Linked DNA regions of Homo sapiens. The protein of the gene in region 2 interacts with the protein of the main gene of each other region in a pairwise test. Each region holds a gene or a part of one and is shown on either strand. Other genes may lie near its edges.

The links.
Region 1: the proteins of MAGEA6 (region 2) and FRMPD1 interact in binary tests that used the Homo sapiens proteins (3 or more experiments, as listed by UniProt).
Region 3: the proteins of MAGEA6 (region 2) and CCDC146 interact in binary tests that used the Homo sapiens proteins (3 or more experiments, as listed by UniProt).
Region 4: the proteins of MAGEA6 (region 2) and ARFIP1 interact in binary tests that used the Homo sapiens proteins (3 or more experiments, as listed by UniProt).

What each region holds. Positions count from the first base shown.
Region 1 is NC_000009.12:37,737,506-37,745,496, reverse strand, and holds part of FRMPD1 (FERM and PDZ domain-containing protein 1), read right to left. Parts: intron 5,420-7,991; coding exon 4,613-5,419; exon of another isoform or gene 4,145-4,612; intron 1,109-4,144; coding exon 1-1,108. UniProt on the Homo sapiens protein: Stabilizes membrane-bound GPSM1, and thereby promotes its interaction with GNAI1.
Region 2 is NC_000023.11:152,766,124-152,774,908, forward strand, and holds MAGEA6 (melanoma-associated antigen 6), read right to left. Parts: upstream 3,567-8,785; 5' UTR 3,531-3,566; intron 1,803-3,530; exon of another isoform or gene 1,739-1,802; 5' UTR 1,673-1,738; intron 1,593-1,672; 5' UTR 1,528-1,592; coding exon 583-1,527; 3' UTR 13-582; downstream 1-12. UniProt on the Homo sapiens protein: Activator of ubiquitin ligase activity of RING-type zinc finger-containing E3 ubiquitin-protein ligases that acts as a repressor of autophagy. May enhance ubiquitin ligase activity of TRIM28 and stimulate p53/TP53 ubiquitination by TRIM28.
Region 3 is NC_000007.14:77,285,919-77,293,909, reverse strand, and holds part of CCDC146 (coiled-coil domain-containing protein 146), read right to left. Parts: intron 7,113-7,991; coding exon 6,984-7,112; intron 6,471-6,983; coding exon 6,333-6,470; intron 959-6,332; coding exon 710-958; intron 1-709. UniProt on the Homo sapiens protein: Essential for sperm flagellum biogenesis and male fertility.
Region 4 is NC_000004.12:152,908,405-152,913,299, reverse strand, and holds the end of ARFIP1 (arfaptin-1), read right to left. Parts: intron 3,237-4,895; coding exon 3,081-3,236; 3' UTR 943-3,080; downstream 1-942. UniProt on the Homo sapiens protein: Plays a role in controlling biogenesis of secretory granules at the trans-Golgi network. Mechanistically, binds ARF-GTP at the neck of a growing secretory granule precursor and forms a protective scaffold.

The DNA.
Region 1 (7,991 bases), on a different chromosome or scaffold from region 2:
CCAGCTGGAGAGCTAATATCAAGAGTCTGTGAAACATTATTTGACACATCACCCGGGGAGTCACCTGAATCCTTCCTAGACTCCTCCTGAAATACGTTGGTGCCATTTTTGTTTGTAACTTCTCTGTCTCTTTCCAGAGATAGTTGTCCTTGTGGCTCTTCCTTTGTAGGGATAGAAGCTATCTTCTCTCCTGGATTTATTCCACATTCATCACTTCTAGGCTCATCTCTAGGAGACAACAAAGGCTCTGTGTATTTGGGGGCAGTTTCTTGTATATGATTTGTACAAAAAGATTCCAATCCCATTTCCAACTGGACATGGGGCTCCAACTGGAGCTCTAGTGTGTCTCCTTGAGAGACATTATTTAGTCCTGGGTTGCTGGCCAGGCAGGCTCTGTCTGGGTTAGGGTCACCACTGGAGAGGGAGAAGGAGCTGTCTCCATGCTCTATGGTTGGTTCTTTGGGGGCAATCCCATCCAGGTCTTGAGATAGAGGTAAGATTTGGGAAGGCCTTGCCTGAGCAGTATCTGGGCCAGATGAACCTGGGTTAGAACAGTGAGGAGTGCTTGCTGAGGAGCTGGCAGCAGGGACAACACCAGAATTCTCTTTATTGTTGGGGTCAATCCGGAAGCGAATGGCAGAAATAGAAGACACTCGAGAGTCGATGACTGATTTGGTTTCCATGGTCTCGGGCTCCATCTCCATGACCCTGGAGGCTGGGTTTGTGCTCTTGGTCTCCCTCAGAGGAGCCAGCAGCCCCAAGGCCTTGGTCTCCAGAAGGCCAGGCTCACCCTGCATGTCCTGCAGAGAGGACACAGTTGGGGAGGGTGCACCAAGGGCCAGGTAGGGCTCCCTGTCATAGTAGCACACGTCGTCTACACTCTCCAGGGAGGCTGATGGCACCAGGGGAAATGAGACCTGAGAGGTGTAGTCGGTCTGTAGGAAAGACCTTCTTTTCCTCAGGGTCTTGGCATATTTCTTCACCCCTCCCCTCCTGCTTGGCTGTCTTCCATCTGGCCCACAAGGCAGGCTGTTCTCAGGGCTAGAAGTGCTGGCCTTATTCTGCAAGCTTGTGGCACTGGGTTCTGCAGTAGAAACATCTCTGGGCCCTGGGAGTCAGGAAAGAAAAAATACATTAAAAAGCACAAAAAAAAGAGGTTAATAGAGCTTGGGCTCAGGCCTTGGGCTTTCCTGGGTTTAAATTCTGGCTAGGCTGTGTAACCTTGAGCAAGTTCAATCCTGATCTCCTCAACTTCCTCATCTGAAAGATGGGGATAATAATTGTGACAGATTTTTTTTTATTTTTTTGAGACGGAGTCTCTTTCTGTCACCCAGGCTGGAGTGCAGTGGCGTGATCTCGGCTCACTGCAACCTCTGCCTCCCAGGTTCAAGCAATTCTCCTGCCTCATCCCCCCGGAGTAGCTGAGATTACAGGCATCTGCCACCATGCCCAGCTAATTTTTGTATTTTTAGTAGAGATGGGGTTTCACCATATTGGTCAGGGTGGTCTCGAACTCCTGACCTCAAATGATCCGCCTACCTAGGCCTGGGATTACAGGCATGAGCCACCGCGCCTGGCCGACTTTTTTTTTTCTTTTTTTTTGAGACAGGGTCTCACTCTGTCCCCCAGGCTATAGTGCAGTGGTGTGACGGCTCACAGCAGCCTTGAACTCCTGAGTTCAAGCAATCCTCCCACCTCAGCCTCCCAAGGTGCTTGGATTATAGGATTGAGCCACTGCACCCAGCTGTGATAGACATTATTAAATTTTTGGATGCCTAAGATCCATTTAATTATCTTTTGGTCACAGCATCTCAACTTCTGTTTAGGGAATGACATCTCCCCAATGGTTAGAGTCTGCTGGAACTGTTCACGAAGATGCTCTGTCCACGCCAGCCAATCAGCTACAAATTCTCCAGAATTCCAAACCCAAAGACATTAAAAAAAAAAAAAAAAAAAAAAAAAAAAAAAAAAAAAAAGCAGAGCCATTCTTTCCAACCACAATAGCTTGATAATACAGGTAGGGAATCCTGTGACTAGACTCTTAGCCTGGTTGCTGTCTATTTCTGAACCCAGGTCTTCAGGCTTGCCAGCAATTCTATAAACAATCTTACTTCCTAACACTTTTTCTTTGTGCTGATGTTAACCCAAGTCTTTTAGTGCCAATGGTGCCATTCAGTGCTGCCGTGCAGGTTAAAGGAATTAGTGCATTTTTATAAAGCACCCAGCACAAGGCCTCTGCCTCATTAGGTATTCACTAAAAGGAAGCTGCTCGTTATTGCCATTTCATGTCTGAATGTAAAGGGGCCACAACTCTGTCACAGGCATCGAGTTTTGTGCATCCCAGGATGGATCTTTCTGGGAGGAGAGGCACTATTGTAAAGAACCCTTGGGAATCAGCCAGAAGGAATTAGGATCAGAGCCTAGCACTTGAGAATCAGAGAGCTTGGGTAGTCAGACCAGTCATTTCTAACCTGGCTGTATGCTATTAGAAACCTTATCAAGTCCTAGGCTGCTCCCCACAATCTCTGAGGAGTCAGAATCTCTGAGGCTAGGGCCTAGGGATCTATAAGGTTTAGGTTTTTTTGTTTTTTGTTTTTTGAGACAGAATCTTGCTCTGTTGGCCAGGCTAGAGTTCAGTGGTGCAATCTCGGCTCACTGCAGCCTCTGCCTCCCAGGTTCCAGTGATTCTCCTACCTCAGCCTCCTGGGTAGCTGGGATTACAGGTGCACGCCACCATGCCTGGCTAATTTTTGTACTTTTAGTAAAGATGGGGTTTTGCCATGTTGGCCAGGCTAGTCTCAAACTCCCAACCTCAGGTGATCTGCCTGCTTCTGCCTCCCAAAGTGCTGGGATTACAAGTGTGAACCACTGCGCCCGGCCAAATCTATAGTTTTTAAACAAGGTCCCTCAGGTGATTCTGATGCCCAGTCACATTTGACTGCCCTAGGCTACTGACAGCCACCGACCAAGGAGTTTCTAAGTCCCAAAGACAAAGAGGCTCCAATAGTCAGTCAGGGGCCAAATCAGAACCCAGGCTGAGGAATCCTAGTTCTGGCTCTTTTCTCAGCACTACACTGGCTCCCTATAAAAAACAAAAACAAAAACAAAACAGTGTCTGGTATGAACCCCATATGTTCCTGACTAGACTCCCATAAAAGGGCCCTGACTGATGGTTTCTGCCACACTTCCATCCTGCCCCCCGGCACAATGGCTGGCCCTGCAGGGCAAGGCTGGGGCATGGAAAGTGGTTGTCTGGGTACTTTGGGGAGCAGTAAGGAGTCTGGCCATGGTTTCTCCTTTCCTTAGAGGTACAGTCAATTGAACTCAGTGTAGATGGTGGAGACTTCATTCATTCATTTAACAACAATTGCTAGACGCTGTGTGCTGGGGACACAGTGAGAAACACACAGTTCTAACGCTCAAAGGAGTTCTCGGTCTAGTGATGGAGAGAAACATCAACACAGAATCATACAAGTAAATATGTAATTTACAGGCTGTGCGAGGTGCCAGACAGGGAGAGCCCCAGGTAATGCAAGAACATGTGACAGAGATGGGGAGACTTGCCCTGGCCTGGGAAGCCTGGGAAATGTTCTCTGAGGAAGTGAATTCCAACCGGAATCTGATAGACGGATGGGCACCATCAGCCACGATCTGGGGAGGAGTGTTTCGGTCAGAAAGAGCAGCATGTGCAAAGGCTGGAGGAGGGGGAAAAAACAGGCACTTGTAGAAAGTGGCAAGGAGGTCTGTATGGCAGGAATGCAGGAGGAGGGAGAGAGACAGGCAGAGGCCATGTCACAGAGGGCCTCAAAGGGCCTGATGGGGCTCCCAGAGGAGCTGGCCTTTCTCTCCAGAACAGTGGGAGAGCACAGGAGGTCTGGGAATAGAGGATCAGAGAGCAGCAGGAAAGTGCCGAGACAGGAACAAGGGCTGCAGCTCTCCCAGCTCCTGGCAGGTCACCTTCAACATCCATGTGCTCTTTTCCAATATGTTTCCTTCAGAATGCAGTGTGTGTGTGTGTGTGTGTGTGTGTGTGTGTGTGTGTGTGTCCTGCCAGGATCTCAGTTCTGCTTGGAAAGACCCTCCACACTCTCGGTGGAGGAATGTATGAGGAACCTGATAGAAACACAGCCACCAGATCCCCTACCTTCTGATGTCAGGGTCCCTTGGACCCCAGAAGGCCTTGCAGGGCCACAGACGGCCTGTCTGTCTGGTTCTTCTTGCTTCAAGGCCTCCTTTAATGCAGCCTCAGGATCAGTGATGACATAGCCACTTCGCTCTGCCGGGCACTCCTGTCAAGCCCTTTCCTTTTTTGTAAATTCTGTCCCTCCCACAGGGCCCAGCCCATTTGCCCCCTCTTCTGGGAAGCCTTCCCTGATTCCCACTGTTGGATGAATCCCTCCCATCTGCTTGCCACAGTTGTCTGAACCTCCCTTGCAGGCCTGCCACGATGCCTAAAATTTGGTCCATGGAATCTGTATCTACCTCCTCAGAAGTGTACAGGGACCCTGTTTCACTCATGTGCCTTCCTCTCAAGCTTGGCCCCAGGCCTTGATCCCCGGGAGGCACTCAGGAGCTGCCTGCCGTGTCTGCAGACCTGCAAGGGACGGCTCACCTGACGGGGGGCCTGGGGGAGTGAGCTTATCAGCCGCGTCATAGTATTCCTCATCTGAGCTGCCATCCTCAAAGGCCAGTGGTGGGTGCAGGGCCAGGGGTTCCAGCATGGAACTGGGCTGGGCCTCAGTCCAGCCCTGCTGACCCCAGGCTGGCGGGGCTCCCCCTTGCCGGGAAGCTGTACTCTCGGAACTGTCACTCAGGTAGCTGGCCGGGGAGACACTGGAACACAGGCTGTAGTAGTCAGCGTGGCTGCCTTCATACAGCCTGGGGTCCAGCCTGACTGTGCTCAGTTCTGGTGCCCAGCCAAATGTCTCCAAAGCAGCACTCTCGGAAAACTCTGTCTTCTGGCACTGGGGGTTGGCTCTCTGGGCCAGGTCCAGGAGACAGAGGAAGCCACTGGTTTCAATCCCGCTTCTCTCCTCCTGGCTGTCAGAGTCAATGCTCTCTGCGAGGCCTGGCGAGCCAAAGTGGAAGAAGGTGGACCTGCTGGAGGAGCAGGTGTCTAAGTCATCCTCTTCCAGAGCGTCCATGGACTCACTCGAGCCACTGGTCCTGTAGCCGCGGCTCTCAGTGTTGGCTGAGTCGGACGCCTCGGACTCGGCACTGTCTGTCGTGCTGCTGGCCCCGCAGGTGCTGGGGCCCCTCCTAGCCACCTCAGGTGTGGGGCTGTTCCCAGGAGGCTGCTCCTCCTTTATGAGTGATCTGCAGGGTGCCAGTTTCACCAGGCGCCTGTCAGAGAGAGGTTCGAGTACGCAGTCCACCTCAGAGGACTCCTCTGAGTCACTGCAGGCCCTGGATTCATAGCCTGCAACACAGGGTACAGCAACAGTTACACAACAGAATTCTCCTACCTATGTGTCCTTCTAGCCCCCTGACCCCCACCCAACCCTGCCAGACGAGAAAACTGAGGGCCAGAGGGTGGCTGGCCTAAGACCGTCCTATACTGACGAACACGGGATCCGAGGGACTCCAGCTTCCATGTTCTCCCCATGCTATCAGACCGCCTGTCCCACATCTCTCTGAGCTAAAGGAGGCTGGATTAACTCCATCCCCACCTCCAAGGAGAACTGTCTGTTCATGGAAATGTGGTATTTACTTTGATTCCTCTTTGTGTGGGCAGCACTGCCCAGGTTTGCTAAGCCCCTCCCCAGACCTCAGTTCTATCCTGCCTGGGCGTCAAAGTCAGATGGGGAATCATATTTTAAAAATACAACAGATCCTTGGCCCTACCCCTGATGTACTGAGTCAGATCGCTAGAAGTGGGGCCTGAGAATCTGTATTTTTAGCAATTTTATGACGAGTACGAGGCTGCTAGGCTGGCACCATTCTAAAGCCTGGCCTTCTGGATCCATGGGTGCTATGGGCTTTGTAGGACAGTGAAAACTCATCCAGCGGCAGGTTCTCAGGAAGGATTAATGGTAGGAGGCTGGGGAGCACTGAGCCAGGTTGCAATCTCTTTATTCCTGTAAGCCTCCAGAGTGATCTTTCTCAAACTTCTCTCTGACCTCATCACACCCTGCTTAAACCCTCTGATGGCTGCCCTGCTTACGGGGAAGAGCCTGGCCTCCCCCACAACAGTTACAGACTCTCACAGTATGGCCTTGTTGCCCTTCTCACAGGATGGCCATGGCGCCTCATGCACAGTCTAGTCCTCCCTTGCCTCAAAGGATGGCCCTAAGGCCTCCTCTGCAGGCTCTTCCCCCTCTCCCAGGATGGCCCTGAACCCTCCTCTGCAGTCTAGTACCCACGACAGGATGGTCTTGACACCTCCCCTTCAGTCTAGTGTCTCCCTCACAGAATGGCGCTGAGGTCTCCTCTGTAGTCTAGCTGCCCTTCTCGTGGTGGGGCTCCTATCTCTTTTCACCATCTCCCTTTTCCCCTCTTGCAATATGGTCCAGCCCCTCCTCAGGCACCCAGTCCCCCATGGCAGCCTTCCCTGCCACGTTCCAGCCACCCATAGGGAGAGCTCCTTTCAGGTCATGGCCTTTTCCTCGGGTCATTCCTCCAGGCCCCCTCGGCCTTGAATGATCTGTCTTCCTTTTCCGTGCCTGGTTAACTCCAGCATGTTCTTCAAGATCTATTTCCAATACCTCTTCCTCTAGAGAACTTTCTCTGACAGGCAGCAGCAGTCCCCCCCACAACCCCTCCACAACAGCCCTGTTGCCACTCTGCGTTGTCTCCCTGAGCAGACTCTGAGGAGTCACCCCTCGTTCATAAATACATTGTGTAACAACAAAGGTAACAGGCTGGGCGCCGTGGCTCATGCCTGTAATCTCAGCACTTTGGGAGGCTAAGGTGGGCAGATCATTTGAGGTCAGGGGCTCGAGACCAGTCTGACCAACATGGCGAAACCCCATCTCTACTAATGTACAAAAATTAGCCGGGCGTGGTGGCAGGTGTCTGTAATCTCAGCTACTTGGGAGGCTGAGGCAGGAGAATCACTTGAACCCAGGAGGTGGAGGCTGCAGTGAGCCAAGATTGCACCACTGCACTCCAGCCTGGGTGACAGAGAGAGACTGCCTCTAAAAAAAATAAAAATAAAAACAAAGGTAACAGATACTCCAAACTCATCACTTTCTAACTGTTTTACTTATTGTATTAGTACCTATTCTCTTGAGCTGATTTCTACTTTATCCATATAGAGGAAACACTCTACAGTGGTGTGCTATTGATCACCTCTTCCCATCTCCACATTCATCATGGTATCATCATATCGTGGTAGCCTGAAATTACCCATCGTGAGAATGTTGACACCATGGAATTGGGCAATTCCTTCAAACTGTTTTTGTCCCTCTGCAGGGAGTTGTTAAGCATTTATCAGCACAGCCCTAGGTTCATGCTGCATCAATGGTGCTGAGGCAAAAGCCTGGCAGAAACTGGGAGCTGGCCTAGGAAACTGTCTTACCTGCCTTGCAGAGAAGTTCTTTTATACTTCAAGAGATTGCAAAAGAGTGCATAGGTAAGGAAGAGAAGCCAGGTCATCTACTTCCTGAACAAATAAGTGACATCTCTTTTTGATGAGAAATAATGATAATCTTTTTTTTTTTTTTTTTTTTTTTAAGATGGAGTTTCGCTCTTGTTGCCCAGGCTGGAGTGCAATGGCACGATCTCGGCTCACTGCAACCTCCACTTCCTGGGTTCAAGCGATTCTCTTGCCTCAGCCTCCCAAGTAGCTGGGATTACAAGCATGTGCCACCATGCTCGGCTAATTTTGTATTTTTAGTAGAGATGAGGTTTCACCATGTTGGCCAGGCTGGTCTCAAACTCCTGGCCTCAGGTGATCCACCTGCCTCAGCTTCACAAAGTGCTGGGATTACAGGCGTGAGCCACAATGCCTGGCTGAGAAATAATGATAAAATGCAGTGGATCTGAGAGAC
Region 2 (8,785 bases):
GAAACGAGCCAGTGAAGAGGAAGAATTATTTATTCAGATTTAATTTCGCTTGCATTCTCAAAGAAGTCAAGGAAATCCTGGTTTGCATATTTGTTTAATTTTACAGAATAGATTGAGGTACAAGGCAAGAATCAACTATCTTTTGATTTCTTGAGTTATCTCATGTATGTTATTGCTAATTCGCTCACAATTTTAAGCAAATACTTTTACCACTGCTATTATTATGTCACAATTCACAAAATGGAATGGATTTCCCAATCTGAATAAAAAACAAGACTCTTACTCCTAAACTATATAAACAGCACTATGTGTGACTACTGTCATTCATAAACCTGGATGCTGACGCTCATTCAACCATCCGTTAAAAGGAACATTTGAACAACTCCAACAGGAAACAAAGAATAATCTCAAAGTCATCCAACAGAACAGAAACCCACTACTAAGAATGCTGACTGCTCGCTTCAAAGAGTGAAGAATGGGCCTCACGTCACAGGAGGCAGTGGAAACTAAGGGATGGGGCCCCGGAAGGTGCACTGGCCCAAACCCCCTCCCACTGGCCCTGGCTGCAACTCGTGCTCAGACTCACTCTTCCCCCTCTCTCAAAGCCCACTCATGCAGGAGTGGGTAGGAAATGCGAGGTCCTCCACTGATCTTTACCATATGGTGCAGGACTTTCACATAGCTGGTTTCAATGAGGGCCCTTGGACCCCACAGGAACTCATAGCATGCAGGATCACTGCCGGGGACCTGCCGGTACTCCAGGTAGTTTTCCTGCACGAAATATTGGGTGAGCAGCTTCTTGGGATCCCCGAAGATACTGTCTTCCCTCCCCTCAAACACCTCTAACACACTCAGCTCCTCCCAGATTTTCTCCTCAGGGGCACAGTCGCCCTCTTTTGCGATTATGGCCAGGATGATTATCAGGAAGCCTGTCTTGGGCATGATCTGATTGTCACCCAGCAGGCCATCGTAGGAGAGGCCCAGGCAGGTGGCAAAGATGTACACGTGGCCGATGGGGTCCACTTCCATCAGCTCGATGCCAAAGACCAGCTGCAAGGAATCGGAAGCTTTGCTGAAGATCACAGGAAAGAAGTACTGCCAATTTCCGACGACACTCCCCAGCATTTCTGCCTTTGTGACCGGCTCCCTGGCTCGATACTTGAGGAGCAGAAAATGAACCAACTTGGCCACCTTCCTACTGAGTGCTGCTTGGAACTCAGACTCCAGGTCAGGGAAGGTGCTTGGCCCCTCCTCTTCTTGGTTGCTGGAGTCCTCATAGGATTGGCTCCAGAGAGGGTAGTTCATGGTAGTGGGGAGGCTGGAGGCTCCCTGAGGACTCTGGGGAGGATCTGGTGACTCGGCAGCAGGCACCTCCCCCAGGGTGACTTCAACTAGAGTAGAAGAGGAGGAGGCAGCCTCCTGCTCCTCAGTAGCAGGAGCCTGCGCACCCACCAGGCCCAGGGCCTCTCCTCGGGCCTCAAGGCCTTCTTCAGGCTTGCAGTGCTGACTCCTCTGCTCAAGAGGCATGATGACTCTGGTCAGGGCAACAGGCGGGAGTGTGGGCAGGAGCTGGGCAATGGAGACCCACTGGCCTGGGGAGAGAGGGAGCATGTGAGAGACCTCAGCTGAGTACTGAATGGAACCTTGGAGGCTCTAACAAAGGCTTACTTACAGATCTTCTCCTTCAGTGCTCCTCCGGGGGCCTCTGTTCCTCCACGTCAGCCTGTCCCCTCAGAACCTGAAGGAGGAAGTGAGAGGGCACCTCAGGGTACATCCGGCCAGCACATGCTGAGGCTGCAGGACTGAAAGTATTGAGGGTGAGGCCAGGCGCTCTGGAGTCCATGTGTTCTGGGGCAGGTGGGGCCCTTGGTTTGAATCCAAGGCAAACCTTCACCGTTGGCACTATCTGAGCCCCCTCTACTCTGTGACCTGAGGACACTGCCTCAGACCAAGTCCTCACTGCCTTGTTCCTGGAGCTCCTGATTCCTGGGAGAGGAATCCACGGGCCCCCAATGTGCAGACAGCAAACGCAGCCACGGATTCCCAGAACTGTCAGGAGGGTTGGCCAGACTCTGTGAGGTCCCCACTCTACTGGGGTGGAGGATCCCCTCTGTGCTCACTCAGGGCCCTCACCTTTCTCCTTATAGGACCTAATCCCTCCCTTCTGCTGGCCTGAGAATCTCTCATGTCAAGAACTCACATACCTGATATGGTACAGAAAAACATGAGGGGACCCACATCTGGCCATACATTCCCAGGTCCTCCCGGAAAGGACAACGAGAGATGTCCAAATTTATTGAAGTCCATGTACCCTGGGTGAGGAGACTGCTTGGTCCTCACCTCCACTCCTAGTAGGGTCTGAGAGCCTCCCTCTACTGCCCTGAGTGCAGTCCCCTCAGACCAAGGCTTCCCCTTCCCTGACATCAGTGATCCTAGGATAATGGAGGGACCTCAGCTGACAGCCCTGCCCAGGCTCTCTGAGGTAACAGCAGGAGCAGGGCAGATTTTTATGGGGCCCCCAGTCCGCATTCTGTCCCAGGGGTACCCTCAATCCTCCCTCAGTCTCTTCACCTGGATGCTTGGCAGATCCTAGGACCACTGCATCTGTCCACCACATAGGGGCCCCTTGGGGGTACACCTTGGGCCCTGCAGATCCTGGGATTCCTCCCTCTGCTGACCTGAAGTCCCACTCTTCAGACCACAGCCCTCAACTCTCTGGTCACCCTGAAGGCGCAATGAGCACAGAGCACATTTGGCCACTGTGCCCAGCATCCCCCAGCCCAAGGTTGCCACTGATCTGGACTCCAAGGTCCCCTCAGTCCTCCCTCTTCTTCCTCCCCATGACTCCTCGCAGGGCTGGGCCCCAACCCCCTGCTGAAGTGGGTCTGCATCCCTAGGATTCCCGTAGCCGAATGAAAAGGTGCCTCGGTTTGAGACAGGGGTACAGTGGGCCCCCTGTCCTGGCATGCTGGGTCCCCTCAGGACTCCACTGTCTTCCAGGAGGGCCTGGGCCCTTTCGCTGCCTCCCAACGGCCATACTCGCGATACCGAACCCCTTCCCTCCCTTAGCCGTAGATGTGAACCTCAGGACTCACGTGCCTGGCCGCCATTCCCGGAGCTTCCGTGACTTGATACCAGGGGCAAAGCCCGGATTCTGCCAGGATAGGGGTGGGGGTGGGGATGGGAATGGGGAATGGGGGATGGGGGTGGGGTTGGTGTTGGGGGACGGGAATGGTGGTGAGGGTGGTGGTTAGGCTGCCCTCAGTTCCCTCTCGGGGTCCTGACCTTGATTCCTGCCACAGCGTGGGCCCTGACCTCTTCTAACCAGCCCTGCCCTGGCCACATTAAGCTCTGTCCCCAGAGTTCCCCGTGGCTAAAGCGGCGGGGGTCGGCGGGGTGAGGTAGTGGCGACCCAGCCTGGAAGTCTTCCCCTGCGGGGTGGCCCAGGCCCGGCAGCAGAGGCAGCACTGGATTATTTGAGGCCCTCTGTCTGAGGTGAGGCCCGCCTCAGTCCTCCCTCAGCGTCTTACCTTGCCTCCTCACCGAGCCTGGGCCGGCTTCCCTCCGCCGACGTCAGGCCGTCGCTCGTTGCTCAGGGCGAGAATCTCGCGGTCTTCTGACCTCCAATGCGCAAGTCAGTGGCGTCACATCCTGGCAACGGTACTACCCTGGGTTCCGGGCAGGGGTGGAACTGGATTCTGCCTGGATGGGGATCGGATGGGGGTGGAGGTAAGCATGAAGATGGTGATGGGGCAAGGGGTAAGGATTGGGACGGGGGTCCTGAGGCTGTAGATCCTGGTGGGGTCGGGGGAGTTGGGGGTGGGTGGGCGGGGCCTTCGGTCATCCCTCAGGGTCCTGAAGTTGATGCCTGGCTGAGCCTGGACCGCCATCCTCTGCAGATTGCTTCTGCTCCCCTCAGACCAAGTCTCTGACTCTGAGTCCCCCTGAAGTGGCATTGGGGGAAGGGGTGTGGTCTGGGTGACATCACTGCCTGCGTTTACCAGGGCTGACAAGAGGGGCTGAGCTGGATTCTGTGGTCCCTCTATGGTGTGTGGGGTGGGGGGGCGGTGTGGACCCTCAGTCCTCACTCAGGAGGGTCGTTTTCGTCACCTCTGGCTGTTGGATGAAGTGATGGGCAGGAGATGCTCTGTTTCTGTCACCTGTGAGCATTTGCACAGCTGCACCCCTTGTAGAGAATGCCTGCGGGTCCCAGGCCAGGTGCTCCCTGCAGGGCGGGGCGGCAGCTCCCGCGGTTGTAGTGACCTCCTATTTCAGTCTTTGTGTTCTGTTGAAAGAATTTTTTTTTTTAAAAAATGTAATTCCTCTCCCACTATGGTGGTTTCAGGTTGTTATTAGCAGAACTCTGGAGTCATACTGCCTTAACCAACCAAATTTTCCTGGTGTCCTGCTATTACCTAGGGCTCTTGGCATCGTGTTTTCAGAGGCTGCCTCAGATTGTGCAAAGAAGTGAAGTGGAAAATTTCAAACTTTTATTCTACCCATTCTGTCATCTACCGTGTAGGCCGGCTACAAACCTCCCCAACATCCCTGCTGCTAACCCCCTCCAACCAACACTGCAAGTGTCAAACACAAGTACCAGCTCAACACAGCCTTGAGTCTCACCCTGGGCTTTCCCTGTTTTGTTGCTGATACTGGTTTTTTATTTACTGTTTCCATTCTGTAATTTTCCAGGTTTGATTTGGGAAGCAGAGCACAGCAGCCCAAATTTGTTGTAATGGCGGCGGCTACAGGTAAGGCACTAAATTGTAAATAATTTAAGCTGAGTTTACATTTTTACAGTGTTGTGCTCCCCATGAATGAATATATTATACTCCTCTATGTATTTCAAGGTTTTTTTTACCTGAATATGTCAGTATACTTCGACAGTTGTCTCTATAAAGACCTTATACATTTTTATTAGACTTCTTTTCAGGCAATTCATGAATTTTGTTGCTATTGCAAATGGCATATTGTCTATTAATTGTTGTAGTTAGTTATTGCTTTCGTGAGGTGAAGATTTTGATTTTGCTGTAGTAATCTGTTGCACACCTCGTTCTGAAGGCCGATGCACTTGAATATTCCACATACCTTTTCCTTTGAATTTTCAAGATCGATAATGGTATTATCACTAAACATTACATATTCTTCCAGTATTCATACCACTTACTCATTTTGGTACTTATAGCTCTTTGTGTCTCAATCCTGATTTCAATCGTAGAGATAATAGCCTACATCTACTTCTCGTTCCTGACGTGAATGATAATTATTCGAACGTTTTGCATTTAAGTATGTTTGCTGTTGATTTTAGGAAGTGCAATTTCTCTTTGAATATAGGTTAAATACTTTTTTTTTTTTTTTTACCATGAACTCATATTAAATTTCTTTAAAAAGCTTTTTCTGTACCCGTTGACGCAATCAAATTTTTTTCTCCTCCATTTTGTATGTAAGGAATTACAATGAAACCGTTTTTTTTTTTCCCCTAATGTTAAACCGTATGTTATTTCCTTGGGCAGAGCCTGTTTATTTAATATGCTAGTAATTTACGTAGGATATTTGCTGCTATGTAAGGGAGCTTACTTAATGTGTGCTTTTTTTCCCATCAAGGGTGGGATGTGGTCCTCATCTGGTTTTTGAATCCAGGAGGGCTAGTCTGGAAGAATGAATTGAACAATTGTAAATATTTTGTATGTTCTAGAAGAGATGAGATAAGATGGTGGTTAGTTTTCCCTGATCATTTGGTAGAATTGGCCTCCAATACTGCCTAACCTGGAATGTTTGAAGGTGGCTTGAGCTTTGAACATTGTACAGTTTCAGTTTTTATAGTTTAATTAAAGTTTTCTTTTTCTTTTTGGATCAGTTTGGTTACTGGTTTATTTTATTTCTACAAAGTGGTCAGTTTCATTTAGGATTTCACTTTTAATGGCATATTTATTATAAAAAAAGTTTTACTAGGGAAAGCCTTCACACATACAGAATAATAGGAACTAATGTAATGAACCCAGGATACTAGATACCCAGCATGAACAACTTTAAATACACAGCAAATCTGGTTCCAGTTAGACACTTGCCTACCTGCACATCAGCTTCTGGAATAACGTGGAGCGAATCTAAGGCATTAGACCATTTCATCTCGAAATAACTCAATATGCATTTTTAAAAGATAAGGACGTTTTATTAAACAGAATCCCAATAGTTTTCATATCTGAAAAATTATATAAATGATTATCAAATATTCAACTATTTTACATGCTTATCTGGCCGACTTATACTTTATAAAAAACATATTTCTTTGATGGAGTACCCAAATATGGTAACTTTCCCGCCACTTGCTTCACTGTAGTGGTTTCATACATGTATAATACAGCTAGGTTTGTGTGTGTGTGTAACATTCTACATTCTGTCCCATGATTCTCCAACTTCTTAAGTTACTTTTAGACTTTACATACATTAAGCTTCACTCTTTGTGCTGTAAAGATCTATGGGTTTTGACAAATGCCTCGTGCCGTTGTCTTAGTCCCTTTGGGCTTCCATAACAAAAATAGTGTAGACTGGGTGGCTTATAAACAACACAACTTTATTTCTCACATTCTAGAGGTTGGGAAGTCCAAGATCAAGGTGCTGGCAGATTTCATGTCTGATGGAGACCTGCTCCCTAGTTCATAGACAGTTGCCTTTCCCCTATGTCCTCACATGGAAGAAGGGGCAAGGGATCTCTGTGGAGTCTATTTTATAAAAACACTGATCCCATTCATGAGGACTCTGCTCTCATGAACTAGTCATTCTCCAAATACCCCACCTTCTACCTAATACCATCACCTTGGTATTTCAGCAGATGAAGTTTGTGGGAACACAAATATTCAGATGAAAGCAAGCATGCATCCACCATTACAGTATTACCATACTAGTTTCACTGCCCTGATAAATCCCCTGTGCTTGTCAGATAACCCCCTTGGCTGCCACTGATAGGTGTTTCATCTTTATAATTTTGCCTTTTCCTGAATGTCATATAAATAGACTCGCATACTATGTAGCCTTTTTAGACTGGTTTCTTTCACCTAGCATAATGAACTGAAGAGTCATGTATAACTTTGTGTGGCTCAGAACTTATTCCTTTTCATTGAGGAGTAGTAGTATCATTGTCTGGTTGTACCATAGTGCGTGTGTATATATATATCCATCCACCAAATGAAATACATTTTGGATGCTTCTATTTTTGGTGATTATGAAATAATCTTTTGTATACAATCGTATACAAATTTTTATGTAGACGTAAGTTTTCACGTCAATTGGGTAAATTGATTATGACTGCTGAATCTTATGCTGTGTTCAGTTTTTTAAGAAAACGCCAAATTGTCTTCCAAAGTGGCTGTACCATGTTGCATTTCCACCAGCAATGAATGAGAGTTTCTGTTGCTCCACATCTTCCCTGGCAATTGATCTTGGTTTTCTTTTCTTTTTTTTTTTTTTTTTGCTTTTTTATGGATTTTGGACATTCTAATAGGTGTGTAGTGGTATCTCATTTTAGTACACAGTTATCTAATGAGAACGGATTCTCAGTACTTTTTTATGCTTATTTGCCATGTGTATATCTTCTTTTGTGAGGAGTGTGTTCAGATCTTTGCCTATTTTCATGTTTTTTCTGTCGTTGAACTTTAAGAATTCGTGTATGTTGTAGAGATATGTTCTTTATCACATATGTGTACCACCGATGTTTTCTGCTAGTCTGTGGCTTCTGTTTTCATTCTCTTAACATTGTCCTTTGAAGAGCACATGATGTTTATTTTAATAAAATCTACTTGGTAAATTTTTCTTTCATTGATCATGCTTTTGGTGTTGAATTTAAAAACTCACCACTGAACTCAAAGTTATGTGAATTTTCTCTTATGTTTTCTTATAGAGGGTTGTATAGTTTTTGCATTTTGCATTAGGTCTGTGATTTATATCGAGTTAATTTTTCTGGAATATGTAAGGATGTTTCTAGGTTATTATAATTTGCCTGTAGATGTCTAATTGTTCAGGCACCTTTTGCTGGAAAAACTGTACTTTCACCATTATTGCCTTTGTTGTGAATCACCTGACTATAAGTGTGCAGGTCTATTTCTGAGCTCTATTCTGTTTTATTAATCTATGTGTGCATTCTTTGCTAATGCTTATGTCCTCCACCAAATTCATACTTTGAAGCCCTCAGCCCCGGGGTGTCTGCATTTGGAGATGAGGCCTCTAAGGAAGTAATTAATATTAAAAGAGGTCATAAGGGTGGGGCCTTGATCCCATAGGATTAGTATGGTTATAAGCAGTTAGAAGAGACAGAAGAAATTACTTGTGTGCCTGCACTAGCTCTCTCTCTCTCTCTCTCTCTGCACATGCACAGAGGAAAGGCCAAGAACGGATATATTGAGAAAGGGCTATCTACAAGCCAGGAATAAGGCCGTCACCAGAAACCAACCCTGCCAGTCCTTGATCTGGGACTTCCATACTTCAAAACTGTGAAAAAAAATAAATTTGTTTTGTTTCAGCTACTCAGTCCATGGCATTTTGTTAGGGCAGCCTGAGCTTACTAAGACATAACCTCAGGTAACACAATTTTTTTTTGTTTTCTCCTACAGAAAAAAAAAAAACCCATAATTTTGACATTTAAGTCTGTGGTTCATTTTGAGTTACATTTTTGTATGGTGTAAGATATGTGCGATGGTTAGTATTATGTGTCAACTTGTCTAGGCTATAGTGCTCAGCCGTGTGGTCAAACAGTAGTCTAGATGTTGTTGTGAAGGTATTTTGTAGTTGT
Region 3 (7,991 bases), on a different chromosome or scaffold from region 2:
TGCAGTTTTGTCTTGAGTTCAGGAGCAAATAGGGACCCTTTCGGTGATACCCACTTGGCAATCTGAGTGAGTTGTACATCTGGAGGATGTAGACTCCTTGGAAAGAGATGCCTAATTCCAGTCTAAGAATACTGACAGGTCATGGGGGTAGACAGAAGATCTGCTATCTAACTTGCAGGGGGAGTCAGCAATAGACCTAGTCTTAGGCCAGAGGCCTAAGGTGGGAAAAGAAAGGGGTGGCGCTGGGGCCTATGATGTACATCAAGCATCTGCAGAAGGCATGGCACCTAAAATGTGGGTGGAGGCCTCACTGTATGCTGTGGAGGCCACAGGAGATGAACATGGAACAGTCAGATGTGGTCTGAGCAGAGGTGCCAAGACAGAGATTGGAGACTTATGGACAAGGCCAGTGCCAGCCTGGTCATTGCTATGCTGGTGGAAGGCCATGATGTTCAGCCTCAGCAGCCCAGGATGTAAGGCTATGGGGTGGGCCCTGTGCTTGCTAAGTGTTCTTCAGTGAGTATTGTAGCACTCTGGATTACTGCACTTTGACTTATCATAGAATATCTTAAATACACTTCTAACGACTGTTGGGACTGTGTGTGGTAGAGTGGGGAAATTTTTCTTATACTGTGGGATAACTGTGGGTTGCCTGAATGCAACCCCTGCTGGCACCCTTTAGAAATGCAATACAGGAGCCAAAGCCTACCTGAGACTTTTCAGCGATGGCCAAGGCGTGCATTTCTTCATCTCGAAGGACTTTCAACCATTCTTTCTCAATTTCCTTATTGAGTGGCAGACCTTTTTCTATCCTGGAATTGCAAGTGAAGATGAAGTCTTCTTTCTCCCTGACTTCCTTTTGGAGTTCAATGGTTAGGGCTTGTTTCATGGACAGCTCAGCAACAAGAGCCATCATTTTCTCAGTTGCATTTTTGATCCTTCTTTGATAGCCATTCATCTAGAATTAAAGAGCCCAAAGCTTAGTCTATGTATACAGTCCACAAAGACTTAAAATGGCAGGCTGCTGGCTGTCTATAATGGCGGGGTGCATTTTTGTCTGAAGGAAGGAGGGTCTAACTTGGAATTCACAGAAATTAAGAACTGGAAGAGACTGCAGATATTGAGCCGAACACCCTGGCTGTGTAAGTAAGGACAAGGAGAGAACAAGAAAAGGATTTGTTTATCTAGTTACTGGATTTCAAGGTGAATAACATTGAGGAGAACAGTTTAGTGCCCATTTTTAAGAGGTAAGAAGGAGAGGTGAAGGGATGTTCTTTTTTTTTTTTTTTTTTTGAGACTGAGTCTCGCTCTGTCGCCCTGGCTGGAGTGCAGTAGCGCAATCTCAGCTCATTGCAAGCTCCGCCTCCCAGGTTCACGCCATTCTCCTGCCTCAGCCTCCCGAGTAGCTGGGACTACAAGTGCCCAACACCATACCCGGCTAATTTTTTTTGTATTTTTATTAGCGCTGGGGTTTCACCGTGTTAGCCAGGATGGTCTTGATCTCCTGACCTCGTGATCCGCCTGCCTCAGCCTCCCTAAGTGCTGGGATTACAGGCGTGAGCCACCGCGCCTGGCCAGGGATGTTCTTTAAAAAAAAAAAAAAAAAAATTAAAATAAAGACAAGGTCTTGTTCTGTTGCTCACACTGGTATATAGTAGTGTGATCATAGCTTACTGCAGCCTGGAACTCCGGGGCTCAAGCAATTCTCCTGCCTCAGCCTCCTAAGTAGATAGGACTATAGCCATGCACCACCATAGTTGGCTAATTTATTATTTTTGTAGCGATGGGGACTTGCTGTGTTGACAAGGCTAGTTTTGAACTCCTGGGCTCAAGCAGTCTTCCTGCCTCGGCCTCCCAAAGTGCTGGGATTACAGGCATGATCCACTGTGCCCAGCCAAGAGTGTTCTTGATGCCTAAATTCTAGTTTAATTTGACGTTATTAGTTTGTCACTTATCCAGGGGAAAAAATCTGGTAGAATTAACGTTACTCTTTGCTTATATAAGATAATCAGCAGAAGTTCTGCATCTGAAATGACTTTTTAAATGAAAACCATCACATTGACATGTTGGCATTATTGATCATAATTCCTGGTGTGCATCATTACTAGGTCAGAAACATGCATGAGCTGAGCTGGGGAATATTTAGTCAATAATTTAGAATGAGAGCTGTTCCTGGAGTGTTTTGTTTTGTTCGTTTGTTTTGAGACAGGGTCTCACTCTGTCACTCAGGCTGGAGCACAGTGGTGTGATCTCAGCTCACTGCAACCTCTGCCCCTGAGGCTCAAGTGATCCTCCCACCTCAGCCTCCCAAGTAGCTGGGACCACAGGTGTGCACCATCACACCCGGCTATTTGTTTTTGTATTTTTTGTAGAGATGGAGTCTCACCATGTTGCCTAGGCAGGTCTTGAACTCCTGAGCTCACGCAATCTACCCGCCATGGCCTCCCAAAGTGCTGGGATTACAGGCATGAGCCACTGCGACCAGACTTTTTTTTTTTTTAACCTATTAATATCAGCTATTTAGCATTAACACAGTTAAAAGATAAGACTAACTGGAAAAAAAAGATCTCAAGAGTCAGGAAAGAAGTAAAACTGGAATTAGGGGTTCCTGTAAGCTGTCTTATAAATGGTAGACTCTTTTAGTCTGATAGCCATAGTGGAGCAGTTCAGTGGTGATACCTTCTACCTGGCAACACTCATTAGTTCCTCTTACCTTGCCTTATTTTTTGTTCACATCATGTCTCACTGCTGATATTATATATGTATTTCACTATTTTTGTCATCCCATAAGAATGTACTCTTCATGAGGACAAGGACTTTTTGTTTTATTCATCATCATAGTCCCAGTGCTCAGGACAGTGCTTGGAATATAAGAGGCACCCCCCCAAATTAAAGTTCAATATTTTCTGAATGAAGGAATGAATGAACTCTTAGTTTGTTTCATTCTTTGTTCTTGGACCAGGATAAATTGGGACATGCAAATGAGCTTCCAAATACTACACTAATGCTGAATACCTTCCTCTCCTAACAGAGCATATCTGGTCACATCTGTACCTCTGTTTAGAAAAATGTTGCTGCTAGTGATTTACCTGCCTCTGAAAATGTAATAACTGATTATTATACACAAATTTTGCCTCCTTAATGGTAGGTAATATACATTTTTATGACTCTTCTATACTGAACTAATTTTTAAGCAGCATGTATCAAATAAAAATGACTACCACTAAAAACTTCAGTGAGTCATAAGTTTTGCCATTTTTATTTGACTTCTAGGCTTCTGCTTTGACAACTTCCACTAACAGACTGAACAGTCCAGCAGCATTGGTGCAATTCACAACTTTTAACTCATAAAATAAGAAATGCTAAGACTTAGATAAGCTAATGCACTTTGAGTAAATTAGCATGTCTTATGTTTCTTTAAATGTTGCTGCCTTTCCTTTTTTAAATGAATTTCCTTATCTTTGGGGGGAGTCATTTTCCACTCAACCACGGCACACTTTTTTTTTCTTCTTTTTTCTCATCTGTTTTTTAAAATTATACTTTAAGTTCTAGGGTACATGTGCACAACGTGCAGATTTGTTACATATGTATACATGTGCCATGTTGGTGTGCTGCACCCATTAACTCATCATTTACATTAGGTATATCTCCTAATGCTATCCCTCCCCCCACCCCATGACAGGCCCCGGTGTTCCCCTTCATGTGTCCATGTGTTCTCATTGTTCAGTTCCCATCTATGAGTGAGAACATGCAGTGTTTGGTTTTTTGTCCTTGTGATAGTTTGCTGAGAATGATGGTTTCCAGCTTCATCCATGTCCCTACAAAGGACATGAACTCATCCTTTTTTTGGCTGCATAGTATTCCATGGTGTATATGTACCACATTTGCTTAATCCAGTCTATCATTGATGGACATTTGGGTTGGTTCCAAGTCTTTGCTATTGTGAATAGTGTGGCAATAAACATACGTGTGCATGTGTCTTTATAGCAGCATGATTTATAATCCTTTGGGTATATACCCAGTAATGGGATGGCAACCACTACACACTCGAGTGTGTGTGTCCATCTGTGTAACTGGCCAACTTCCCTTCTCTTCCATAAATTAGAAAACAAAGTTTCATATTATCCTGGGTTGCTCCAAGTCTTAACTGAGATTTCCCACTTTCTGCTCCCATTTCTGTTGGGAAATTTGCAGGAGGCGCCATAAGCTATCTAGGAGAAGTGAGACACTTGAGGAGATGTGCAATCTTTTTGAATGTGGCTAGGTCACTTACGTGTTCGACTATGTAATACTTGCAACAACTTTGGCTATCACACCCATTACACAGATGAGCAAACTGAGTTTTAAGATCATTTATCCATCTTTCTCAAGGTCATTTTCTACTTTTGATAAATCATAGATCTGGAATCTGAATGTCTTTCTACTTTCCAGTTCTGCCTACTATGAGATTATCATTTTAAATGGAGTGGGGACAGTGAAAGCTGGGGAGGAGGAAGAAGCCAATGGAGAGCATGGAAGGTAGGGAAAGGAAAGGGGAGAATAATTGTTAGACTAGGACTCGGCTGTGCTGGAGCTTTCCTGGCTATGGGAAGCGGCCGCTATGTACATTTCTTTAGCATTACTGTTGCCTTCCAGGCGACTCTGCCATCAGCTTTGATAAGTCAGGCCTCAGTGAAAAATGACTTCCCCCAAAGAAAGGGAAATTCATTTTGCAAAAGGAAGGAAGGCAACGTTTATTTAAAGAAATATCAGACATGCTAATTCAGGCAAAGTGCATGAGCTTAACTGAGCCTTCGCATCAGTCCAGTGGCAGACGTGTGACTCACAACTTTGTACCTTAGTTTGGGAGGCCAAGTTGTGATTTGCACACCTGCCACTGGCCTGATCAGTCTAGTCATGGAAGTCATCAGAGCAGAAGCATAATAGTCAAATAAAAATGGCAAAGATAGTCTAATATTTACAATCATTTCTTGTTTAGTGTTCCACATGTGCTTCTAGAACAGAACTGATGATTACTCATCCTTGAAGTGTTTTTCTAGAGTCTGGCACATGCTAGGCATTGGAGAAATTAAGAACGAGGAACAGCTGCTGCCCTCAGGAGCCCACAGTCTCTGGTGTGGGTATTACCATTATCTGTTTTCATCTGTCTCCCCCTACTAGACCCTATGAGCTTCCTATGGTGTAAACAATGTGTCCCTTCCTCTTTGTTTCTGAACTCATGCCTAGCATGAGAGTAGCACATAGCAGGTGTTCAGTAATTACTGTTGACTGGCTGAACTCTCTGCATTGACGGGATGCTCCAGGGAACCCAGAGGCCAGGTGAGTGGCCAGTCCTCTGATGGCTCTATGGTATGCATGAAAGGCCTCGCATGAATGGTCTTGTGTAGGGGTAGACTGAGGAAGGAGTGAGTCCCGTGCCTGCACGGACATGACCCAGAAATGGGTGTACAGGCTGATGGGGCAATTCCCCAAATGAACCTTTGTTGGAAGCAGGAGTCAGAGCCACAGGAAGCCTGGCAAGACCTGCAGGCACCATGCTTCCTGCACAGCCTGCAGAACCATGAGCCAAAATAAACCTCTTTTCTTTATCAGTTACCCAGCCTCAGGTATTCCTTTACAGCAATGCAAACGAACTAATAGACAGCCTTCACCTCTTCATTGCAGGTTGTTACAGAGACCAGGGTAACTAGCATGCAACATGCTGGGAGTCCAGGGGGACTTCTAGGGGCTCTGCTGGCTGCTCCTTTCAGTGCAGCTTCTAGCAGTCCCACCCTGACCCTGAGGCTCTGGATCTGCTGTCCTGGTCTCTTACGCTTATTAAATTAGGGGGTTCTGTATTCCTGGCCTTTCCTCACTAGTGGTGCCTGGTGGGCACCTCCATGGTGCAGTTGGTCTGGGTGTTGTGTGACTGCATTTCTCTTTATCAGTCCCTTTCAATTTCTGGGTTCTGGCTGAGTTCTGGATTGGAGCAGTCCCTACTAAGATCACTGGATAAGTGAGGCGCTCCACTTAAAAGGAACTAAAAAGGATTTAACTTTGTGCATGAAATACAAAGATAATAACTGTCATATTTGGGTAGTTGCCTTGGTAAGTGAAACTTGTATAGTGTCATTTAAAAGCCTAGGTTTTGCCACCGTGAAGTGAATTAATTCAGGGAATAAGATTGAAACATTTTGGACAATTCTCTGAGTCATCCTTTCGTTTTTCTAAGTTCCCCTAGTCATAAAGCCTAATCTCTCCAGTGCTTCTCTCAATAAATCTGTCGGTCTGTGGAAAATAAAAGGTAATAAAGGAGCAGGGGCAGAAGGGAAAAGGCAGGGTCTCAGGCCTACCTTCTTGGCTAAGAGCAGTGTGTCCTGCTTGCAGCCCTGAGTTTTGCTGCAGAGCCTGTCTGTGAGCCTGGAGACCTGCTCATAGATGAAATCCTTCTCCAGCAGCTTCTCCTCCTTCTTGGCCAGTTGTAGTTCCAGCTATGTTTGAAAATTGGTTCAAGAGGAATAAAAAAAAAGTCATCTAAGACAAAATCTTATTTCCTAATTAGAGCAGTATCTCCCCCTACCCCCCACAAAATACCTCTGGAAAGTGTTTAGAGCTGGGTTAAGACTTTCCCTGCCCCAGCCCCTGCAGATACCTCTGGGAGTTCGAGTATGGCCCCCTCAGCTCTATCTAACATCCACATCACCATTCTTCTGATGTGCTCCCATCAGGAAGACAAATTAATCCATTTAAGATGCCAAAATTACTCCTTTGGGTCATGAGAGAAATGTGCCTTTGGAATCTCGAAACCACTGGATTGGAACTTCTTTTGGCAAGTGTCTAAATCAAGCTTAGAATGTATGACTAGATTACAACAAAAGGACTATATTAGTGACTAGAATAATGAAGGATAGGTCTGTCAGCATAACATGAAACAGTACCATAGGTATCTGTGAAACTACATCAACGAGGAGCTAACAGATGCAATTTTAAGCAATAATGTTTACCTTGTCTAATTTTTGGATCATTTCTTTTTCGGTCAGATCTTTCCCTGGAAGGAAGCGAGCTCTATTCTCACCATCAGGCTTTACGAACTGTTTCTCCAGGTCTTTAATTCTGTCTGTACACTGTGAAAACTATTAAGAAAAAAACATTAACTTTAAAATGAACGCTCTAGCTCAGTTAATCTGAAAATCACATTGCCTAGGGTCTTGAGAGTTTTTTAGTAGGACCAACCCAGACAAGGGTAGAAGAGAACTCTGTTTTCTTAACACCCCATCAGCTGGGACCTGGTTAAGTGACGTTTCTGCTCATTTATGGTACTGCGACGATGATGTCTATAATTCGATCATATGAGGTGAGGCAGTGCCTTCTGGGTCATAGAAAAAGCTGGTTTCACAAGCGGCCCTTGATTGCTTCCCATTTTGGGTCATGTTCATGGGATGCTGTGTGGTTGCAGGGCTCCAAGTATACAGCCTGATATGGTTTCGATGTGTCCCCCTCCAAATCTCATGTTGAATGAATATAATCCCCAACGTTGGTGGTGGGGCTGGGTGAGAGGTGTTTGGGTCATGGGGGCAGGATGGGGCCTTCATGAATGGCTTGGTACTGTCCTTGCAATAATGAGTGAGTTCTCAATCTATGAATTCAAGTGACATCTGGTTGTTTAAAAACAGCCTGGCTCCTCTGCTTCTTTCTCTTGCTTCCTCTCTCGCCATGCAATGTGCCTGCGCCCCCTTTGCTTTCCACCATGATTGGAAGCCTCCTGAGGCCCTCACCAGATGCAGATGCTGGCACATGCTTCCTACACAGCCTGCAGAACCATGAGCTAAAATAAACCTCTTTTCTTTATGTTATCCAGCCTCAGGTATTCCTTTACAGCAATGCAAATGAACTAACACACAGCCTTCACCTCTTCATTGCAGGTTGTTACAGAGACCAGGGTAACTCACATACAACACACTGGACTTCATTTCAAAACACTTGGCTGGCAATAGGTTTAATGGCTTCCCAAA
Region 4 (4,895 bases), on a different chromosome or scaffold from region 2:
CAGTGGATAGAAAGGCAAGCATCTTGCATACTTTGCAATCTACCTAGTATGAAGCCATTTGCGGGGAGATGGATTTTTTCCCCAATGGGAAGATATTTAATACACATTAAACTTAACTTTAGAAGAAACTTGACACTTTTGACACATTGATTTAATTATGCGGTTGAAATGGCAGGATTTAAAGGGGAATTGAAGTATATAGTTGCAAATACTCATCCAGCATTACATTTGGAGATGGGGGTTGGCTAAGTCAGTTTAACATATTTTGAAGCCTTGATAGTTTCATCTGTTAAAAAAAAAGTGTGTTACATAATCTCTAAGGAACATTCTAGTTTCACACTCTATAGGATAAGCTTCAGTAACATTATCAGTGTGTTTTGAATATGGAAAAGATGCTTCTTAAAGCCTAGATTTCAGCTAAATTGCTTTTGCAAACCCAGATAGTTCCTGGACCCTAAGATTTGGAAGCTTTGGGATGAAAAGTTTAATTTCACAGACCAGTTCCTCAGTGCATTATTTTTTCTAGAATAACAACTTCTATTTTAATGACAGAAAAGCCAGCCATTTTCATCCATTCCCTGCTCTCACACCCAGCATCCCCAAACTCTCCAGTTGGTGATTGTTCAGCCTTTATCTTCCTGTTTTTCTCTTTCATTATTTCATTTTATATATACAGCACTGGCTTAAAAAATATACTAAACAGGTACATGTGTATGCTCTTAGAGGTGTAAATTGGCACAGTCTTTCTTGAAAGCAAACAGGCAATATATTACAAAGTTTTAGAAGTATGTATATACTTTTGAGGGCCCATTTTCACTTCTAGGACTATAACCTAAGGGAGTAAGTAAGTAAAAGTGCAAAGATGTAAATGTATATTAAAGGATATTCAAAATAGAGCTTGTATATTAAAATCCAAAACTAAAATATCCAACTTCAGAGGTGTTGAGTGGTTCCATGCAGTATTTATTCACTTGGGAAGGTACTTATCTTCTATTACTTGAAATTTTCTTCTAATTCTTTTCTATAATGAACATAAATTACATTCCTAACAAAGTAAATGTACCATTGGCTAAATATATTGATTTACTTTTTTCTTTTGGTCATGTGCCCACTATCAGAATCATGGATATTTTAAATTTATTCTGAAAAAAATTAATCCATGAAACTATTTAGCTCCTTAGCTACAGTAACTGTTATTGAAATGTGGTTAAGAATGGACATGTTCAGCTCTCAAAAGAGATTCACATTGAAAAAAAATAGCTTACTGAGCTAAAACAATTATAAGTGACAGAAGTACCTTTTTTTTTAAGGTTCAGAAAACGCAAATTATGTGTCTTCAGAATTTCCAAATAGTTACTTCTTAAACTATGAAGGTCCAGAGAAACGATTTACTGCAGCAAACACGTTTAATAAGAATACAAAATTCACACTAGAGGCACATTCTGGGGAATGTAAATGAACTATCACAAGTAGTAATTCTGCTGGAAGAATAAAATAAGGCTCTCTGAGTACAAATATACAGGAAGGAATGATTTAAAATAGGTATGATTTACAATCACATTACATTGTATTAAGCACTCAAAACAGGCATATTAATTAAAAAGCCAGCTAAAAGGCATTTGAACATATATAACAAATCTTACAGTCCACAAAGTTCATGTATAACGGTAATTTTAAGTACTTCATTTCAACACAGAAGAAATGAACAGGTGAGGGATGCCTCTCAAAATATTAATTTATGTCTATGACAAAAACTAAAAGAGCTTTACATTGAAAATGGATTACACTACTGATAGAACCATGTAGTGGACAGGGCAACCACATTAAAACAAAACCAACAGTGCCGAGCAACTAAAACAGTACTGGCCTTTCCAATCCTCTTTCTTCCTGGTACCACCACACTGTCCCAAATTACCTCTTCATTACCCAAATCAAAGAATCTTTCTGTTTTCCCAATCCTCAAAAGGAATGAAGAAAAACCAAAGAGCAAACTCAAAAGATGATTTTTACCATAAACCTCAAATGTGGCTTAACAAGTACAAAGAAACCCAACATTCATACATAGTGCTCCATTCCATGGAAGGAATAGACACATCAAACATTATCCAACAGGGGTTTCTTTATGGATTTTGTACATTGGTTGAACAAGAATTACTGTATCTGAGAAGGCACATATCTGTGATTTAAGGCTTAAACGGTATTGTTACATATGGAAGTCAATAAAAGCTGTCTATGTATTCACTTCTATCAAAATGGAACTGACCCAAAAACTAGTTTTCTAAGTACAGATTTCTACTCCAGAAACCATTAAGAATTTCCATTCCCACGTCCACCTGTCAAAAAAAAAAATTCTCTTAAGCAGGTTTTGTTATGAACCAAAAGAAATTGCAAATGTAACTGTCCAATGACTTCGGGTGAAGCAAATTCATAAGCTTAAAAGCCTCACAGAAATGACAGTGTGATTTCTGTGTCTTTAAAAAAAAGTCTAAATAAAATTACAGTGGTACAGATTCATTTTTAAAAAGGTATTTGCCACAACTCCACAAGCTAATCATTCATTAGAGCTGCTGCCTCTGTGTGGACGCTGCAGGAACACCATATAACTTTACTCTGCAAAATAGTTTCTTTTTTCTTTAATACATGAAAATGAATCTCTTAAAGATGTTTAATATATTCACATATAAAATATCTGATGTTGATACAAATCATGTAAACCTCCCTTTGGAAAAGTTACAATCGGCCCTCATTTCCAGGACCAAAAACCTTGAATTTTTATCTTGTCAGTGCAAATCTCTATTAGATGTTTTCAAACTACAGAAATAGCCATCAACCCTCACAATACAAAAGGATTTCTCAAAAAGGAAAATTATTGTGTTCAGATTATAGAAACTATGTTTACATTAAAACCACCCTTAACAGTTCAATTGTTAAAGTATGAAAAAGGGAAAAATTAAAGCTGTTTGTGCAAGAATCACTATAATGCTTGTCACCCCTCCCACTTCCCCCAACTCTGCTTAATTCTTGTTAGGTTGGTTTAGAAATATAACAACGCGACTTTCTTTTTATTTTCCGCTGTGATTTTACTGTTCTTCAAGCCAAGATGGGGCATCCACTCCAGGGGTTTTCAATTTGATATGGAACTGTTTAAGTGTCTGTTCAAGCTGCTTCTGATTCCCAGCAAAGTAAGCGGCAATGGCATTGTGGAAAAGGACCAGCTGATTGTGCAATACTTTAACCTGTGGACAGGGCAGAGTTACAAGACCAAGCATTAACACCAATAACAATAAAATAGAGAGTGATTTATTACATTCCTTAATTAAATAGTGTATCTCTCTTGAAGAAAAGCTGGCTTAATAATGACCAAGTATTTCACACATACCAAGTGTACACTGCCTTGCAGGGTCACTGAACCTTTGATGACTTTTTAATTACCCTAAAGAGAATAGGTCAGTTTTAAGATGCCCAAATATATACCCTATTAACCATTTTCAAACATTATTGAGAGGATTAATTAAAAATATCATTAAATCCTCCTCAAACTAAGTACATTCAAAATCATGTGAGATATCAAAAAGGGAAAATTATATATAATTGCTACACAATGTATGAATAGTAAATATGGACATCATTAAATCTAAGCTTTATGTAAGCCAAGTAGGCTGGATACTTTTAAATATTGACTTTCTTTGTAAAGAATCAAGCAAGTAGCAAGTGTTGCTCAGAAAATCAATTTACTTAACGCTCATATGACTCTCAATTATTTTCAACTGCTTATTACTTCTGCTGATATCAAGAGTATATTTTAACCAAGTCATACTACCTCTATAAGTCTTTCTTAAAGAAATAAACAATGCATCAAAAAGATTTATAAACTGTTTCCTGAGGTTGTTTTTCTTTTGTTTTGTTTTGTTTTTTGAGACAGAGTCTTGCTCTGTCACCCAGGCTGTTATGCAGTGGCACAATCTTGGCTCACTGCAACCTCTGCCTCCAGGGTTCAAGTGATTCTCATGTCTTGGCCTCCCGAGTAGCTGGGATTACAAGTGTGCACCACCATGCCCAGCTAATTTTTGTATTTTTGGTAGAGATGGGGTTTCACCATGTTGGCCAGGCTGGTCTCAAACTCCTGACCTCAGGTGATCTGCCTGCCTCAGCCTCCCAAAGTGCTGGGATTACAGGCGTAAGCCACCAAGCCCGGACATCTGAGGTCTTATTTACAACTGCAAAATGTTAAATAAGAATTCTGATTCCCATCCAATATGACATTCATTAAAATTGAACTTTAATAATAAATGATGTAAAAATATTTGAAACACGATGCTAAATGAAAAAACAGGATAGAAAATTTGTTTCACTATATTACACACACACACACACACACACACACACACACACACACACACACACACACTTCTCTCTAGCCATTTCTGAAAATGATTTCCAAAACTGAGCTGGTCTCGGTCACCTCTGCCATTGTGACTGAGTCTCAGATCTCTTCTGTAGAACAGGTTGTCAGGGACAGGTCTAGGGAGCGCTTCAAGGGCAATCTGCCCTGACAGAGGGTAGAAAAATCACTGTATGATGTTATATGTGAAAGAATTTCTTAAGTAAGGCTTATAAAACCCATAAATTATAAAGAAAAAGATTGATAATTAAACTGCATTAAAATTTAGAATTTCTTTTCTTTTTTTTTGAGATGGAGTTTTGCTTCTGTTGCCAGGCTGGAGTGCAGTGGCGCCATCTCAGCTCACTGCAACCTCTGCCTCCCGGGTTCAAGCGATTCCCCTGCCTCTGCCTCCCAAGTAGCTGGGATTACAGGCACGCACCACCACGCCTGGATAATTTTTTGTATTTTAGTAGAGACGGGGTTTCACCATGTTGGCCAAGACCGTCTCGTG